Linked DNA regions of Homo sapiens. The protein of the gene in region 1 purifies or fractionates together with the protein of each later gene. This does not show direct contact. Each region holds a gene or a part of one and is shown in the gene's direction. Other genes may lie near its edges.

The links. Proteins that work in one complex are often made in the same cells at the same time.
Region 2: the proteins of DCAF4 (region 1) and FDFT1 purify together in Homo sapiens (affinity purification with mass spectrometry; one large-scale study listed by BioGRID and IntAct). This does not show direct contact.
Region 3: the proteins of DCAF4 (region 1) and LRRTM2 purify together in Homo sapiens (affinity purification with mass spectrometry; one large-scale study listed by BioGRID and IntAct). This does not show direct contact.
Region 4: the proteins of DCAF4 (region 1) and PYM1 purify together in Homo sapiens (co-immunoprecipitation; one large-scale study listed by IntAct). This does not show direct contact.

The regions. Positions count from the first base shown.
Region 1 is NC_000014.9:72,956,647-72,961,009, forward strand, and holds the end of DCAF4 (DDB1- and CUL4-associated factor 4), read left to right. Parts: intron 1-1,965; coding exon 1,966-2,159; 3' UTR 2,160-3,057; downstream 3,058-4,363. UniProt on the Homo sapiens protein: May function as a substrate receptor for CUL4-DDB1 E3 ubiquitin-protein ligase complex.
Region 2 is NC_000008.11:11,829,430-11,833,740, forward strand, and holds part of FDFT1 (squalene synthase), read left to right. Parts: intron 1-814; coding exon 815-991; intron 992-2,088; coding exon 2,089-2,241; intron 2,242-4,311. UniProt on the Homo sapiens protein: Catalyzes the condensation of 2 farnesyl pyrophosphate (FPP) moieties to form squalene. Proceeds in two distinct steps.
Region 3 is NC_000005.10:138,872,536-138,877,445, reverse strand, and holds the start of LRRTM2 (leucine-rich repeat transmembrane neuronal protein 2 precursor), read left to right. Parts: upstream 1-2,110; 5' UTR 2,111-2,534; coding exon 2,535-2,538; intron 2,539-2,889; coding exon 2,890-4,436; 3' UTR 4,437-4,910. UniProt on the Homo sapiens protein: Involved in the development and maintenance of excitatory synapses in the vertebrate nervous system. Regulates surface expression of AMPA receptors and instructs the development of functional glutamate release sites.
Region 4 is NC_000012.12:55,917,895-55,922,205, reverse strand, and holds part of PYM1 (partner of Y14 and mago), read left to right. Parts: intron 1-4,311. UniProt on the Homo sapiens protein: Key regulator of the exon junction complex (EJC), a multiprotein complex that associates immediately upstream of the exon-exon junction on mRNAs and serves as a positional landmark for the intron exon structure of genes and directs post-transcriptional processes in the cytoplasm such as mRNA export, nonsense-mediated mRNA decay (NMD) or translation.

The DNA.
Region 1 (4,363 bases):
GGGAAGTAGAATTAGATTATATTAGTAATCAGGAGTGTAAATAAATGTCCACCAGGTGGACAGCCTCATCCCATGTCAGTGGGCAAACGTCACTTCAGAAACAGGCAGGTGGGGAGGTCCTGGGGAGCCTGGGTTTGGAGTTTGAGTGGATTTCATCAGGCCAGCATTATTCCACCACGCAACTATCTTATCCAAAAACTTGGGCTCCCTGTTGTCTCTACTCACATTTCCACCAGAGGATGCTGAGAAAAGAAGTTATGGTCATTGTAAAGATTCTTGGCCCCGGCCCGGCGCGGTGGCTCACGCCCGTAATCCCAACACTTTGGGAGGCCAAGGAGGGTGGATCACGAGGTCAGGAGATTGAGACCATCCTGGCCAACATGGTGAAACCCCATCTCTACTAAAATACAAAAATTAACTGGGCATGGTGGCACCTGCCTGTAATCTCTCAGCTACTCGGAAGTCAGAAGCAGGAGAATTGCTTGGACCAGGAAGTCGGAGGTTGCAGTGAGCCGATATCACGCCACTGCACTCCAGCCTGGCAACAGAGCGAGACTCCGTCTCAAAATAAATAAATAAATAAAAAAGATTTGTGGCCCCTTTACTACCATCCCTGTGGCTCCATGATCTGCAGATTAGGAGCAGCTATCTGGCCACTAAGCCCCCTGGAAGGGAGTTACCAGTTGATTACAGATGATGGTGGCTATAGCGTAATCAGACAGTGTGCAGGCTCAATGCTTTCACACTGAAATAGTAGCTGCTGACACTGCAGAATGTGTTCTCAGTCTTCAAGAATTGTCACCTCTACTGGTATTCCTATAGAAAGGGCTTATACCCCATGGAACATTTTTGTGGCTAGGAAGCATTACTTTGTTAGGACATTCATAGACTTATTTACTATTCTCATCAACACCAGGACTTCGCCTCCTTTTTAAGTCGATTTTTCACCTGTTTTTATCACAGAAGAGCTCTTGTGAGCTGGATGATAGAGAGAGCTCAGCCTTGCTGAGAGGCAGATGCAGGTAGTTACCAGCTGCAGTAATAAACTGCAGCCGGGATTCAGCTTCAGCCAAGATAGCACTTCTGGTCTTAGAGCCACACAAGTGATCAGAATCACAAATGTGAAATCCATGACTGCCCAAGGCCTGTCCTCTTCTCCTGCTGAAGGTCTCCAGTAGTGTATATCATGTTTCTGGGCTGCTGTAACCCATGCTGTTGTGTGTCACAGTCCTCAGAACTGGAGCCCTGAAGACTTAAACCGGTCCTAGGAACTGAAGCATTAAACCAGAAAGAGCTGTGGGGAGAGTTGTCAACCTAGCCCATCCCCAGGATGTAATGACTTTGACAGATCTTTTACTATAACATGAAAAGATCAGGCCAGGTGTGGTAGCTATAATTCCAGCACTTAGGGAGCTTGAGGCCAGGAGTTTAAGACCAGCTGGGGCAACACAGCAAGACCCTATCTCAAAAAAAAAAAAAATTAGGCATGGCGGCACACACTTGTAGTCCCAGTTAACTCAGGAGGCTGAGGCAGAAGGATGGCTTGGGCCCAGGAGTTCAAGGCTGCAGTGAGCCCTGATCACACCACTGCACTCCAGCCCGGGCGACAGAGCAAGACCCTGTCCCTAAAAAATGGGGGAAATCAGTTGCATGTCACCTAGACCAGGTGGGCCACACTCGCACTTGAACGTTCCGTGACATCAAGAGCAGCAGAATACCCAGACATTAGCCAGGATGTCTCCGAGCCATTCATGGCATCACACAGCCAACCAGGGCATCTTGTCATTGTTCTAGCACAACAGGGCGACTTGGGTTATCCGTAGAAATACTGTCCGTTAATGAGTTTGTGTTTTGGCTCACATGAAATCACAGCCCTGAGGAATCTTGGGAAGCCATGTCCACATGTAGGTAAGTTTTCCTTTGCATTCTCTCACTAGCCTGCCATGTGTCTCTCCTCTTTCCTAGTGGGCCAGGACTGCTACACGAGAATCTGGAGCCTCCACGATGCCCGCCTACTGAGAACCATACCCTCCCCGTACCCTGCCTCCAAGGCCGACATTCCCAGTGTGGCCTTCTCGTCGCGGCTGGGGGGCTCCCGGGGCGCGCCGGGGCTGCTCATGGCTGTCGGGCAGGACCTTTACTGTTACTCCTACAGCTAATTCTGCAGGGCACAGCCCAGAGCCATGTGGATTTGACTTACGGGAGTAAAGCGTAACTTTTTACTGCATCTAATGAGGGTGTTTTAAGTGACACTCAGTGTACACAGATCCCATCCTCTGGCTGCTAGGAGAGAAGTGCTGAATGTTCCGTGTGGAGATGCTCAGGAAAGTTATTTGAGTTAAATTGCTGGCTGAGAGAGCTTGGAAGTCCTTTTCATAAAAGGTACCTCTTTCCTTTTCTTATTGAATTCTTAGAACTTAGTTAACCCTCCCTGCCTTTTCTTAACAAAAAGGACTTTTCTAAGGACTGAAGATTGGCAAAAACGAAAAGCTTCTTCCTCCAAGAGCCCATTGAAGAAGCCCAGTGATGAGACGGTGAGATGGTTTGAGTCCTCGGTGCCTGGGTAGCAGGAAGAAAGACCTGCATCCTGCATCTGTACTTGGGGAAGCCAGCGGAGAGGACGGGGAGGTTACTTCTCTAAGTTTCTGCAGAAATATTGAAGGCTGGAGTTTGGAATCCTTAAACTTGGCCTTCTCAAACTCAGCAGCAGATCTCCGGGATTCTGCTGTTATTATCCAAAGGCGTTGGAAGGAAAGATGGATCTTCTTACATGCTAGAAGTTTTAAACGGTCCTTAACATGCCTTTGTTCAAGCACCTTCCAGAATGTAAGGTTCAGCAGCTCTGGTTTCTATTACGGTGACTTGAATGTCAGATTCAAGGGCCCGGCGTCAAAGGAAATTGGTTTTGACTTTTTGTAATCTAGGAGCGACAGTTCGTGAGATGTTTATTCAGTGTTAAAGAGCCTGTTTTTCTACCAAACAATAAAACCAAGAGAAGAATCATGGTGTGACATGCACTTCTGTGAATGACTTAGGAGATCATGAGCTTGGGCTGCTGGGACCAGCTTTCATAGCCTTCCTGGAGAGCTTCCCTGGGCCCCTCCAGACCCACTCTGCCCTCATCATCTGTCCATCTCCACCCTGCTCTGTGCATGCCCAAAAGACTCACCTCTGGACTAGGTCAGGGTTCCCTGGCTCCCAGCAGCTAGGTAGGTTCAGCCAGTGGGAAGCAGCAGTAGAACACAGAGGGCAAGAGGAGAGGGAGTGGTTCCCCGGCTCCCTTCTGGTTGGGCTGTGGGTGGCTGTAACCAAAACCCACCACTTCTATTGGAAAGCGCTCAGAGAGAGCCGGGTTCCAGCAACTCTTCATTTGTCCCTTCAGACCTACAGCTGGTCATCACACCTCACTGTTGCTGGCCCAGAATGCCTCACTAGGTAGACTCGCAGTTACCCACTTGAATGTTTCCTGCCAGTACCCTGACTAATACAGCATATTCTATAAAGAACCAAATTTTTTTTTTTTTTTTGAGATGGTGTTTTATACTTGTTGCCCAGGCTGGAGTGCAATGGCGCTCTCACCGCACCCTCCACCTCCTGGGTTCTAGTGATTCTCCTGCCTCAGCCTCCCGAGTAGGTTGGATTATAGGCGCGTGCCACCACGCCTGGCTAATTTTGTATTTTTAGTAGAGATGGGGGTTTCTACATGTTGGTCAGGCTGGCCTCAAACTCCTGACCTCAGGTGATCTGCCCGCCTCAGCCTCCCAAAGTGCTGGGATTATAGGCCTGAGCCACCGCACCTGGCCCGATTCTTAAATATATTTAATCCGTCCGCCCCAGTTATCTAAGGCTCTGACCTCTTCCTTCTCCCACCAGCAAACCCCAGGGCAGTTTGCACTGTGCCCCCTCAGCATTGTGGCTGACAGTCTTCTGTATTCTCTTTCCCACATTCAGGATCATGGTGGCACAGGAAGGGATGGCTGGATAGTAGAATGCATCCTCCACATCTTCAGGAAAGGACAGAGATACCTCAACAGGAGAAGTTGGGCAGAGACAGGCAAGTGCTGCCTCCATTTCCAGCCTCATGATGGTTCCTGGGCCATAGCAAAGCCTGGTTGAGGGGAAGAGGCCCAGGGACTGCATCTTTCCAGCTTTTCTTCACATACACAAGCAGATGGTGGCACAGTACTCCCTGATACTAGCTAATAAGCACCTACTGTATGTCAGGCCCCCCCCACCTTTTTTTTTTTTTGAGACATGGTCTCACTCTGTCGCCCAAGCTGGAGTGCATGAGTTGCAGTAGCACAATTACTACTCACTGCAGTCTTGACCTCCTTGGGCTTGAGCAATCCTCCCACCTCAGTCT
Region 2 (4,311 bases), on another chromosome or scaffold:
ATACACTTAGAGGATAGACTCAGCTCATTTCCCAGCTATGCCTTTCAGCAGCTTTCTTACCAGAGTAGGAATATAATGTTAGTCATTATTTAGAGGCCTGGCCATCTTGAGAAGGTTTACTGTTTAGTCTGCAGTACAATTATAACTGTTTTTGTATATTGGGTTATTTTTTTCAGAAGTAGGCCAGTAGCTCTAACAGGAGCCTCTTTAGCCTGAATTCGTCCAAGTAGTGCAGTGTTGCACTAGTTGTCCCTCGGGACATGCTCCCCAATACGTAACTCACTTCCAGGTTGCAACTGGACACTTACTGGTAGTCAGAAATAGCTATTGCATGGAGCTTAAAATGAACTTGATCTTCGTGAAAGATGAGTCTGCAGCTAAGAGACTTTACTGTATATCATAGTGTTTTTTTTTGTTTTGTTTTGTTTTTGTTTTTGTGACGGAGTCTCACTCTTTCACCCAGGCTGGAGTGCAATGGCGAGATCTTGACTCACTGCAACCTCCGCCCCCTAGGTTCAAGCAATTCTTCTGTCTCACCCTCCTGAGTAGCTGGGATTACAGGCGCCTGCCACCGTACCCGGCTAGTTTTTGTATTTTTAGTAGACACAGGGTTTCACCACCTTGGCCAGGCTGGTCTTGAACTCCTGACCTCGTGATCCACCCTCCTCGGCCTCCCAAAGTGCTGGGATTACAGGCGTGAGCCACGGCGCCCAGCCTGTATCATAGTTCTTATGCACAAAGACCCTTTAATATTGTTTGTAAATTCTCCCCTATGCACACGCTGACCTGTTCCTTAATCTTCTTATCTGTCTAGGTTTGGAGCAGGTATGTTAAGAAGTTAGGGGATTTTGCTAAGCCGGAGAATATTGACTTGGCCGTGCAGTGCCTGAATGAACTTATAACCAATGCACTGCACCACATCCCAGATGTCATCACCTACCTTTCGAGACTCAGAAACCAGAGTGTGTTTAACTTCTGTGCTATTCCACAGGTAGGGAAGGGGGCTCCTCTGGGTGGATACGGGGCTAAAGGGAGTGGGGTAGGAGTAAGGGTGGATTTTGCTGTGCTATATTCAAGGATATGATTCCTTAAAAAGACGATGACTCCAGTTTATTACGCTGGGAGTTTCATAGCACCCGCCTTTGCTTCCAGCCACCAAACTCAGCTCAGCCTTGAGGTTAAGCCTGCTCCTTTTCAGAACCTTCTTTCTGGATTTACTATTTTCTACAGCTATCCTAAACTAGTTAGGTTCTTTTCCTCACAGTTAAGTCAAGGTCTTTGGCTTAGATTTATGGGGAGTGCTGGGTAAAACCTGGGTGAAGCTGTTATCATTAAAAAGTCTTCATTAAGCACCTAATTACTGCTGTCCTTTTCCTAGACCCGGCATAAAAAGAACCTGGTCCGGTAGACCTAGCCTCTCAGTATGCTAGGAACTTACACTTTTTAGTTGCCTTTACCAAGTATTGCAGATACTACTGCAAATAAGTGAAGAAAGTAACAGCATTTAACTGATTTGGGAACTTGGTTTGATCTTGTTCTAATGACCAACTTCGAATGGTGGTTGAAAGTAAAATCTGTATCGCCGTCTTATGTTTCCATTTACCTAGAAATACTTTACCTTTGAGCACAGGAAATTAATCCCCTTCTGGTTGTTCTCCCCCTGGCATTGGTTTTAAATATATAATGATTATGTTTGTTGTAGGAAAAATAGAAAAACAACTACAATAGAAAATTCTTCCCATATATTATTTTGAAATACATATTTCCGATCCGATAATCCATTGCTCTAGCATGGAAAATGTTGGATTTACTTGTGTTTGCTTTTTCCAAATAAAATGGAACTTTTGTGGCTACATTATAGAATTGTTTTAGACTGCTTAATTCTGTGTGTTGTTGAGAAAGGGAGGAGTGGGGAAGGTAAAAATCTTGACATACTTTCTTCGTGGGTATTTTTTCTTGAGCGATTCCATCTTAGTTGATTAGCAGTTAGCAATTGCCCATTCAACAGAAGGTTTTCTTACCTTTTTGTGATAATGATAGCTAACGACATCATTTCTTCTTTTTTCCCTCTCTTCTTGTTGTCTCTAGGTGATGGCCATTGCCACTTTGGCTGCCTGTTATAATAACCAGCAGGTGTTCAAAGGGGCAGTGAAGATTCGGAAAGGGCAAGCAGTGACCCTGATGATGGATGCCACCAATATGCCAGCTGTCAAAGCCATCATATATCAGTATATGGAAGAGGTGGGTTTTTATTTAACTACTTGGATAATTTGTAGCTACTTTTATGATTTAGTAATGTCACTGTTTAACCAGGTTTGGATATTAGATGATCCTAACAATTCACTATCCTGTGGCCTAAAGAGACAGGAATTGATATCCTTTATAAGGAAAAAAGTCTATTCACAGGAGCCGAGCAGATTGCTCACTGCTGTGTAGTACCCTGGTGAGAGGAGATAAATGGAGCAAGGCTGTAGGTTGGAGCCCCTCAGTAGAATCATAGATTTTGAGCTGCAAGATGATGCAGGAGGCCAACCAAGCTTCTTGTTGCTGGTGAGGAATGTGAGGTTGAAGCTTGTCTGTGCTGATGCAGTGCGTGATTGAGTGGATCTCTGGCTCCCGTCCATGTGTCCTGACACCCAGTCTGGTACTTTCATTATGCCACAGGCCTCAATTGAAAAATCACAGTAGGGAATTTAGGCCAAGGAAAGCCATCAAGTTGCAATTATTTCCTAAATTTTCTTTGGAAAATTTCATTTCAAATACCAAAACCATCCTATAAAAAGAAAACTTACCTTCTTAGGTCAAATCTCTAATATTTGACTAGGTTCAAAAAGTTTATTTCTGGCCAGGCACAGTAGCTTACTCCTGAAATCCCAGCACTTTGGGAGACCAAGGTGGGAGGATCACTTGAGGCCAGGAATTCAAGACCAGCCCGGGCGACATAGCAAGACCCCATTTCTACAAAAAATTTAAAAATTGTCATGGTGGTGCACGCCTGTGGTCCCAGCTACTCAGGAGGCTGAGGCAGGTGGATCACATGAGCCTGAGAGGTCGAGGCTACAGTAAGCTGTGTGATTTCATCATTGCACTCTAGCCTGGGTGATAGAGTGAGACTTTGTCTCAAAAAAAAAAAAAAAAAAAAAAAAAGTCTTAGAGACCAGAAGTCTTTGTAATCTCTAATAATCTCTAGGCCCTAGAGCAGTGGTTTGTAAATGGAGGTGATTTGCTCCCCTCCCCCCAGAGGACATTGGACAATGTCTGGAGACATTTTTGATTGTCCTAACCGGCAGGAATCGGGTGCTACTGGCATCTGGTGAGTAGAGGCCCAGGATGATGCTGTGATCCTCAGGTGTGATCCTGTTGAGAATGAAACACTGTAGACTTTATGAAAACATACAAGACCCTCATCATTTTTCCTTTGCCTGAGCTCCCTCCCCAGAGGTTACCTCTGTTCATGGTTTTGTGCATCCGTCTAGTCCCCCTGTTACGCGTTTACAGGAATATGGTTTGCAACAGTGTTTTCATCTAAATAGAATTATACAAAATAGCGATTTCTGATTTCTCTTGCATATTGCACATTCTTCTTATACTTCCTCCCTACCTTTATCTGACACAGAAATGCTGTATGTCCAGAACTTCTATCAGAGGCACCTATGGAAGTCTAAGGGAAGACCACATCGCTTTTAAAAACCCTAAAATTTTGTAGTCACTAGATGAAAATATTCAGCCAGTGACCCAAAAAATTGCTACCAATGAGACTCTCCATTTTGCCATGTAGCCAGAACTTACTTTGATCTATGTGCCTGGGGTAGTGACCAAGTAGGTGGGTAGGAGTAATCTCAGGGAAACTTGAGGCCCCAGCCTCATGGCTAGGGTCATAATTTGAACCCAGGTCTGTCTGACATCAGAATCCATGATGTTAACCCCAATTCTAAGGGGTTCAACTACCCTTTCTAAATGGAATCCTGCTATATTAAGCACTATTTATTCATTTTATATAAACTAGAAACATTTTATGTAGTAAGTAGTTGAGAGTGTTTTGGTTTTGCAGTTTGATCACTAGTTTTAGAAACCAGTTTTTAAACACTTTGTGGCCAATTCCATTACTATATTAAAATTCAGATTTATTTGGTTTTTCCTTAACTATTGGGATTAAATCCTGGTTGTAATTCATAGTTTGAGGGCGAGGGTGGGCAGTCTACAGTTGGCTGAGCCCTGTTTTTGTGAATAAATGTTATCAGAACACAGCCACACCCATTTGCTTCTTTGTCTTCTGTGGCTGCTTTTGCAATGTGACGGCCGAGTTGAGGA
Region 3 (4,910 bases), on another chromosome or scaffold:
AAAAGAAATTTAAGAGACCACTCCTATGAGACTACTGTCCTTAGAACTTTTGGGGGCAAGTTCCTGTAGAACAGCAGCTCTGAAACCTAGGGTGAGAGACCCTGTAGGAATCGGACTCAACCTTATCCACAGAAAAATGAACAAGCAAAAAAATTTCACAAGACAGTTTATGGAACCAGGTTAAGAAGTTCTAGCCTATTGAGAGAGACTATAGGAAGGATTAAGGTCAGAGGGGGAGTAGCATTCCCCGGGTCTAAACCAGGACTTGTTTCCTTCCCTTCTTTAACCAGCAAGAAGGAACAAAGAGGACGTACTAGTGCAGGCTCATTACTAAGGACTCAAGAGTCTGTTCACTGGCAACTTTGGCTTGGGAATTTCCATTCAGCCTACAAAATGTGTCTAAGAACCACAATGCCAATCTCATCTTCTTTGCTTCCTCTGTCCCTTCACAGGTGTCAGACCTGCCCTGTGGTACGAAGACTCTCAGAGCATTCCTGCTGCCTTCTGTCTCCCTTTGTACTTCGTAGGCATTTTTGCCTCTTGTACTTCTAATTCTACCTTGGGATCACTTCTAGGAGGACTCAAACCACACACCTGCACTGCTGCAGTTTTCATAGCACCTTTACACAGAGCCCTAAGGAAGGGACCTTGGAGTCTCACAGCTCTCACTCCAGCACAACACTACAACAGAAAAATTTTACCCAAGACAATTACTTCTTAGATCTGCCCAGTGGGATGAATCCCTCAGAACCAAAAAGGCCAACGATGTTCTTGTTTCACAGACACCATCAGTAGTTTTAAAGATGTCTGTCCTTAGGTCTGAGACAAGACCCACAAAGGGTAAGTGCCAATGATATGGGAGAAATAGGTATGTTGGGTCAAATCAATAAGGCAAGATGTAGAAAAGGGCTTACCTTTGTCAGGCCTGAAAATATAACATCTAGAAACATCTTTTGCATTTATATAACACTAAACATGGAGCTATACATCCACAACTGAGGTCTGAAAAGTGAAGACACCATTCAACAGGGAGAAACTGGAGTTAGGGCAAGCAAAATCAAGTCAAAACAAAAATCCCAGTCCAAAGCATGAGTGACCTTTTGTATTCACAAGACAGGTTCTAACAACAGCAGTAGGCTCAGTTAAGTCAGCCACTTGGTGGCTGGGAACTAGGGTGCAAATGCTCTATTATTTCAGTGTCACAACCACCAACCTCAGTACCAGCGGAGGCTTTTAGTTATGGAGTAGGTGAGATTCTGAGGTAAAATACAAGGGGCCATGTCAGAATCCAGCTACACGGTATCACTTGTCCTAAATCATCTCTGCTTTGCTGTTAGGGCATGTGCATTAAAATGACTGTATCAACCTGCCTTGTCCTCCCAGGAGGACATTTAAAGATCAACTCAGCATTATTTTTTCAATCAGTATGGCGACAAAACATTGTTATAAAATAGGAGAAAGAGAAATCTTTTTAGAGTTCCCCTGAAATTCTCAAAGAAAAAAATAACCACATGCTTTGTTTTGCAAGCTTCCCCTCCCCCTTTATTCTTCGTTTATAATGTTAAGCTCTTGATGACAAACAAGCCAAGCCCACTTAGCTAGTTTATCAACACATCTAAAGCAAATCATAGTCATACTTTGATTTTAACCAAGCATGACAACAAGGCAACTGAATAGCTTTCCAAACTACCAGTGCAGCGACACTACCTTGCATAGGCTGGTGTTAAATCAGCACTTCATAAATTGTGCAGGCTTCTGCCCATTTAGATGATCTCTCTATGCAGAATCGGCAGTCTAACACTGGCTCTCACAAGCATTAAAAATCATCACTCTGCTAACCCAACTCACTGTTCAGATGGGTCTTCTTGAATGCAGCCTTTATTACAACCTCACTGCTGCTTCCTACACTGAAGGAATATCATGTTTTTAAGTCAGGAGTTCTTCTTTCTCGCTTTATTGTAATCAGGGGGTCCTGCAACGACCCCGATGCTGTTACAAAGCATGGTGCTTTATAACAGTAAAGCTTCTGGAAAACCCAAACAAAAGACACGTCATCCGGTGACGTCAGCCTATATACAGTTCTGTGTGGTCGCAGCACATAAGCAAATCCATTCTTGTGCCGTTTCTCGGAAAAGCTTTTCAGTAAATGCACTCATGCTGCTCCAGGAGCTCTTCTCTGCAACAAGCCACCCATCTGCCATCAACAAGTTAAGACCAAGAGAACTAACGGCTGCGGAAAGGAGACTGAAGCTTTGATTAACCAGCTGAGCAGTTAGAGGTGGAGAAATTTAATAACTTATATTCAAAACTGATTTAGGGATCAGAGCAATCACAGAAAATGAAACCAATGCTTTCCAGAGGGATATCCTAAGGAAAAAACAACTCGTCCTGGTGGATTCAATTTTACTTGGAAAGCCTGGGACACAGAAAACAGGAAACTGGTCAAAGGCTCCTACATGTTAGAGCCTTTTACAGACTCACTGCGTTGAGTCTAACAACCGCGACTGAATGCAGCCTCCAATGTGCTCAGAAGAATGGGTAAGTCTGTGCATTTATATGTCTTGTACATTCAACAAGGAATCACGCTTTTAAAATAAGCTACCGAATTCACATTTTATGAGGGAAATCACCATCATATTTTGGATTTTGAGGTTTAGGTAAAAGCATATATCGATGATGACAGAGACATGTTTTATCTTCTTTTTAAATGGCTTAAGTTTTGGTCCAGTCATACCAATAAGGTTAATTTTTCTGCAGTAAATGAAAAATAAGTTATATGCAGTGAAATCTTTTGCTATAATGTTGGTGGTGGTTGTTTTTTTTAAATAGCCCATATGTTCTGCTGAAAAATATCCTATCTTCTTGTTTTCCTTAAATTATATTCTGCAGGCTTACATTTCAAGTGGCCATTAGGGGCCCCTATGCTGGCAGCAATATATGCAATGAGTATGGTTTTAAAAATGCTGCCTGCCCTGGGTATGGCGTGTCCACCCAAATGCCGCTGCGAGAAGCTGCTCTTCTACTGCGACTCTCAGGGCTTCCACTCAGTGCCAAACGCCACAGACAAGGGCTCTCTGGGCCTGTCCCTGAGGCACAATCACATCACAGAGCTCGAAAGAGATCAATTTGCCAGCTTCAGTCAACTTACTTGGCTCCACTTAGATCACAATCAAATTTCAACAGTAAAAGAAGATGCTTTTCAAGGACTATATAAACTTAAGGAATTAATCTTAAGTTCCAACAAAATATTTTACTTGCCAAACACAACTTTTACCCAACTGATTAACCTGCAAAATTTGGACCTGTCTTTTAATCAGCTGTCATCTCTGCACCCAGAGCTCTTCTATGGCCTTCGGAAGCTGCAGACCTTGCATTTACGTTCCAACTCCCTGCGGACTATCCCAGTACGCCTGTTCTGGGACTGTCGTAGTCTGGAGTTTCTGGATTTGAGCACAAATCGTTTGCGAAGTTTGGCTCGCAATGGATTTGCAGGATTAATTAAACTGAGAGAGCTTCACCTAGAGCACAACCAGCTGACGAAGATTAATTTTGCTCATTTCCTACGGCTAAGCAGTCTGCACACGCTCTTCTTACAATGGAACAAAATCAGCAACTTGACATGTGGGATGGAGTGGACCTGGGGCACTTTAGAAAAGCTAGACCTGACTGGAAATGAAATCAAAGCCATCGACTTGACAGTGTTTGAAACGATGCCCAATCTTAAAATACTCCTCATGGATAACAACAAGTTAAACAGCCTTGATTCCAAGATCTTAAACTCCCTGAGATCCCTCACAACCGTTGGTCTCTCTGGCAATCTGTGGGAATGCAGCGCCCGAATATGTGCTCTGGCCTCCTGGCTGGGCAGTTTCCAAGGTCGGTGGGAACACTCCATCCTATGCCACAGTCCTGACCACACCCAAGGAGAGGATATTCTAGATGCAGTCCATGGATTTCAGCTCTGCTGGAATTTGTCAACCACTGTCACTGTCATGGCTACAACTTATAGAGATCCAACCACTGAATATACAAAAAGAATAAGCTCATCAAGTTACCATGTGGGAGACAAAGAAATCCCAACTACTGCAGGCATAGCAGTTACTACCGAGGAACACTTTCCTGAACCAGACAATGCCATCTTCACTCAGCGGGTAATTACGGGAACAATGGCTTTATTGTTTTCTTTCTTTTTTATTATTTTTATAGTGTTCATCTCCAGGAAGTGCTGCCCTCCCACTTTAAGAAGAATTAGGCAGTGCTCAATGGTTCAGAACCACAGGCAGCTCCGATCCCAAACACGACTCCATATGTCAAACATGTCAGACCAAGGACCGTATAATGAATATGAACCCACCCATGAAGGACCCTTCATCATCATTAATGGTTATGGACAGTGCAAGTGTCAGCAGCTGCCATACAAAGAATGTGAAGTATAATATCTACCCATCATCAAAAATCACATCAGATAAGTAACCTATTTTACATAGTAGAGGCTAAATACATATCTAATTTTTACCAATGGTGACATTAAGCCTAATTTTCCAAACTAAGTGGAGACTTAGTTTTTGAAGTGTTGAAGTATTTTTAATTTTTTAAATGAAACCATATTTTAAGTGTTAAATGAATCAATGCTCACATTAATTTGCACTCCTGTTGGAAAGTCTAAAATGCTTACTTCAAAATAAGAAATGTATGTAATTATATACAATCGTGTGTAAACCTTTACACTAAGGTCTCCATATACTATTTTTTTCTACTGAAAACAATTTAGAAAGAAGCTATTGGGCAGAAACAGATATAGATCAATACCTGTTTGATCACTGCTCTCCATCCCATGTACCACAACTATCTTGCTGCTTAAAAGGAGACTTAGTAAAGTTCTCTTGTATGATAATTTGGTATTTACTCAA
Region 4 (4,311 bases), on another chromosome or scaffold:
GGAGTAGAGAGTTGTGCTCTCCTTAAAAAAAGAGATTAAGGGCTGGGCATGGTGGCATATGCCTGTAATCCCAGCACTTTGGGAGGCTGAGGCTGGAGGATTGCTTGAGGCCATCCTAAGCAACATAGCAAGACCTCTTATCTACAAAAAGATTTAAAAAAAAAACGAGCTGGGTAAGGTGGCACACACCTGTGGTCCCAGCTACTCAGGGAGCCTCAGAGGGGAAGATTGAGCCAGGGAGGCTGAGGCTGCATTGAGCCGTGATTGTGCCACTGTACTCCATCCTCAGTGAGAGGCTGTCTCAAAAAACAATTAAAAAAACACACTATTTGGCATTTTTCTGCCCAGGAGATTTTTTTCTTTTCCTTTATTAATTTATGTATATCAATATGGACTTATAGATGTGTATTTTATATGTTAGGTTATAATCCAATACTATTTTATTTGCTTTATTGCTCAAATGTTCCAGTTTTGAACATTGGGAACTCTTTTAGTTTTTTACTTGGCCCATCTCCCTTTGACATTTGCCATCATTGCAGGTATGATTTTGTTCTCTGCTCCAGTCCTGCGGTCTGCCATTTCTCCAAGAAGCCCTTGTTCTTTTTACTAAAGAGTAATGTTAAAAACTAAGATCTGATCACTAGGTGTTTTTATTTCTATGGGAGTATTTTTTTTTATTTATGGGAGTTTTATTTTTTTATGATTATTTTTATTATCATCTTTTACTTCTCTCTTGCCCTCCTCATGTATATCAGTTATCAAAATATCATTCTTTTATTCCTACTGCTGTTACCCTTATCCCATCTACAGTACTTGTTAGCTATATAGCCTTGGGAATCTAAGTCTTAGTTTTCTCATCAATGAAATTGGAATAACTCCTGCAACACAGGATTATTATGCGTATTAAAATTTAAATAAAGTAATTTACATGTTTGGCACATAAAAAGTGTCCAACACATTGTTCTATAATTATTACTATTATGTAAGGGTCATTGTATGGGTTAGAAGAAATTACTATATATGGCCAAGTACCAGGCATAGTACTTGGGCCATTCCAAGTGCCTGCTAAAATTCTAGTTTCTGTTGTTCTGCAAATATTACTGTGACCTCCTAAACTGGTCATCGTATTTCCAGTCCCTCTCTTGTTTCATTTCTACAGATACACTGCTACCAGATTACTGCTTCTTAAGTGCAAATTTAGTTATGTAATTTTTGTTCAATATTAATTCATCAACCCAGAGTCTGCTGTTATATATGGCATATATCTTTCTAAACTGTTTTAAACATAGCAGAACCAGATGGTATATACATTTTTATATCTTGCCTTTTCATTTAGCCTTATGAGGTAAATGTTTTTCCTTGCTATTAAAAACTCTGTAAACATCTTTTAAAATACTGGCAGAGTGTTTTATAGTTTGGGCATGCACCCTATCTTACTTTCTTCTGTTATTGGACTTTTAGATTGTTTTCAGAATTTTTATTATAAGAACACTAGAATGTTTTTGTGCATGCATCTTTTTCGGCATTTAGGGTTATTTTCTTTTTCTTTTTTTTTCTTTTTTTTTTTTTGAGACGGAGTCTCGCTTTGTCACCAGGCTGGAGTGCAGTGGTGCGATCTCTGCTCACTACAATCTCCACCTCCTGGGCTCAAGTGATTCTCCTGCCTCAGCCTCCCGAGTAGCTGGAATTACAGGCATGCACCCCCACTCCCAGGTAATTTTTGTATTTTTAGTAGAGATGGTGTTTTACCATGTTGTCTAGGCTGGTCTTGAACTCCTGGCCTCAAAGGATCGCCCACCTTGGCCTCCCAGAATGCTAGAATTACAGGCATGAGCCACCGTGCTCGGCCTGATTTTTTAAATTATCTGTAAGATGAGGTCTTGCTATGTTTCCCAGGCAGGTCTCCAACTCCTGGGTTCAAGTGATCCTCTCACCTTGGCCTCCTGAAGTGTTGGGATTATAGGCATGAGCAACTAGTTTTTCTTTTCCTTTTTTTTTTTTAAAGAGACAAGGTCTTGCTCTGTTGCCCAGGTTAGTGTACAGTGGCACAGTCATAGCTTGCTGTAGTCTTAACTGTTGGGGTCAAGCAATTCTCCTGCCTCCTCCTCCTGAGTAGCTGGTACTAGTACTACAGGCATGCGCCACCATGGCTGGCTAATTTTTGAATTTTTTTATAGAGCTATGTTGCCCAGGCTGTTCTCAAACTCATTTTCACAAGCAGTGCTCCCACCATGGCCTTCCAAAGTGGTGGGATTACAGGCATGAGCCACTGCACCCAGCCTAGTTTTTCTTTTTTCTTTTTCTTTTTTTTTTGAGACGGAGTCTTGCTCTGTCTCCAGTCACCCAGACTGGAGTGCAGTGACGCGATCTCTGCTCTGCCAACTGGGCTCAAGCTATTCTGCCTCAGCCTCCCAAATAGATGAGATTACAGGCACGCACCACTATGCCCAGCTATTTTTTTGTATTTTTAGTTAGAGATGGGGTTTCACCGTGTTGGCCAGGCTGGTCTCGAACTCCTGACCTCAGGTGATCTGCCTGCCTTGGCCTCCCAAAGTGCTGGGATTATAGACGTGAGCCACCATGCCTGGCCCCCAGCCTAGTTTTTCTAAGCACATATGCATATATAACATTAAGGTAAAATGACATATTTTGAATTATACTGTTAAGATTGGCTGTTATTTTCTAAAATATGAATCCTTGAAACACCTAGTAATCTTCTGAGATGTGACACAAAATAAATAACTAAAATAGAGGCCGGGAGTGGTGGCTCACGCCTGTAACCTCAACACTTTGGGAGGCTGAGGCGGGTGGATTGCTTGAGCCCAGGAATTCGAGACCAGCCTGGGCAACATGGCAAAACCTCGTCTCTACTAAAAATACAAAAAATTAACTGGGTGTGGTGACACACACACTCCTGTAGTCCCAACTACTTGGGAGGCTGAGGTGGGAGGAATTGCTTGAGCCTGGGAGGTGGAGACTGCAGTGAGTCAAGGTCCAGCTATTGCACTCCAGCCTGGGTGACAGTGACCTCATCTCAAAGATAAATAAAATAAAATGCAAATAATGTTTCTGTGCACAAATTTTGAGAAACACTGTAAACCATATTCCCATCTTGCATATGTACCTGAATAAGAACATAGTAACTCATTTAAGCCTTGCTGTTAAAAAAAACAAACGCAAAATCTTTTTTGGTGTTTAACCCAGAATTTCCCAAACTTATTTAACAATTTTTAGGGATAACCCCTGTTTAATATCTTATGGGAGTAGTATTTTACATAACAAAAGCTTTGGGAAATGTGATTAAATGATAGGACTACCTTTTTTATTTTTGTTTTTTTGAGATGGACGCTTGCTCTGTCGCCCAGGCTGGAGTGCAGTGGTGCAATCTCGGCTCAGTGCGACCTCTGCCTCTCAGGTTCAAGCGATTCTCCTGTCTCAGCCTCCCAAGTAGCTGGGACTACAGGCACGTGCCACCACGCCCAGCTAATTTTTGTATTTTTAGTAGAGACGGGGTTTCACCGTGTTGGCCAGGCTGGCCTCAAACTCCTGACCTCAGGTGATCCACCCGCCTTGGCCTCCCAGTGCTGGGATTACAGGTGTAAGCCACCATGTCCAGCCTAATTTTTAAATTTTTTATAGAGATGGAGGTCTTACCATCTTACCCAGGATGGTCTTGAACTCCTGGGCTCAAGTGATCCTCCTACGTCAGCCTCCTAGTGTGCTGGGATTACAGACGTGAGCCACCATGCCTGGCCTATTTGTTGATTTCCATTTTTATTTTAGATTTAGAAAATGTGCAGGTTTGTGGTTGGGCGCAGTGGCTCACGCCTGTAATCCCAGCACTTTGGGAGGCCGAAGCGGGCGGATCATGAGGTCAGGAGATTGAGACCATCCTGGTTAACACGGTGAAACCCCATCTCTACTAAAAATACAAAAGAAACTTAGCCGGGCATGGTGGCGGGCACCTGTAGTCCCAGCTACTCGGGAGACTGAGGCAGGAGAATGGCGTGAACCCGGGAGGCGGAGCTTGCAGTGAGCCGAGATCACGCCACTGCACTCTAGCCTGGGCGACAGAGCGAGACTCCGTCTCAAAAAAAAGAAAAAAAAAAAAAAGAAAATGTGTAGGTTTGTTACATGGGTATAATTATGTGATGCTGAGGTTTGGGGTATGAGTGATCCCATCACCCAGATAGTGAGCTTAGTACCCAATAGTTAAGTTTTTTTTTTGTTTGTTTGTTTGTTTTTTGTGATGGAGTCTTGCTTTGTTGCCCAGGCTGGAGTTCAGTGGTGTGATCTTGGCTCACTACAACC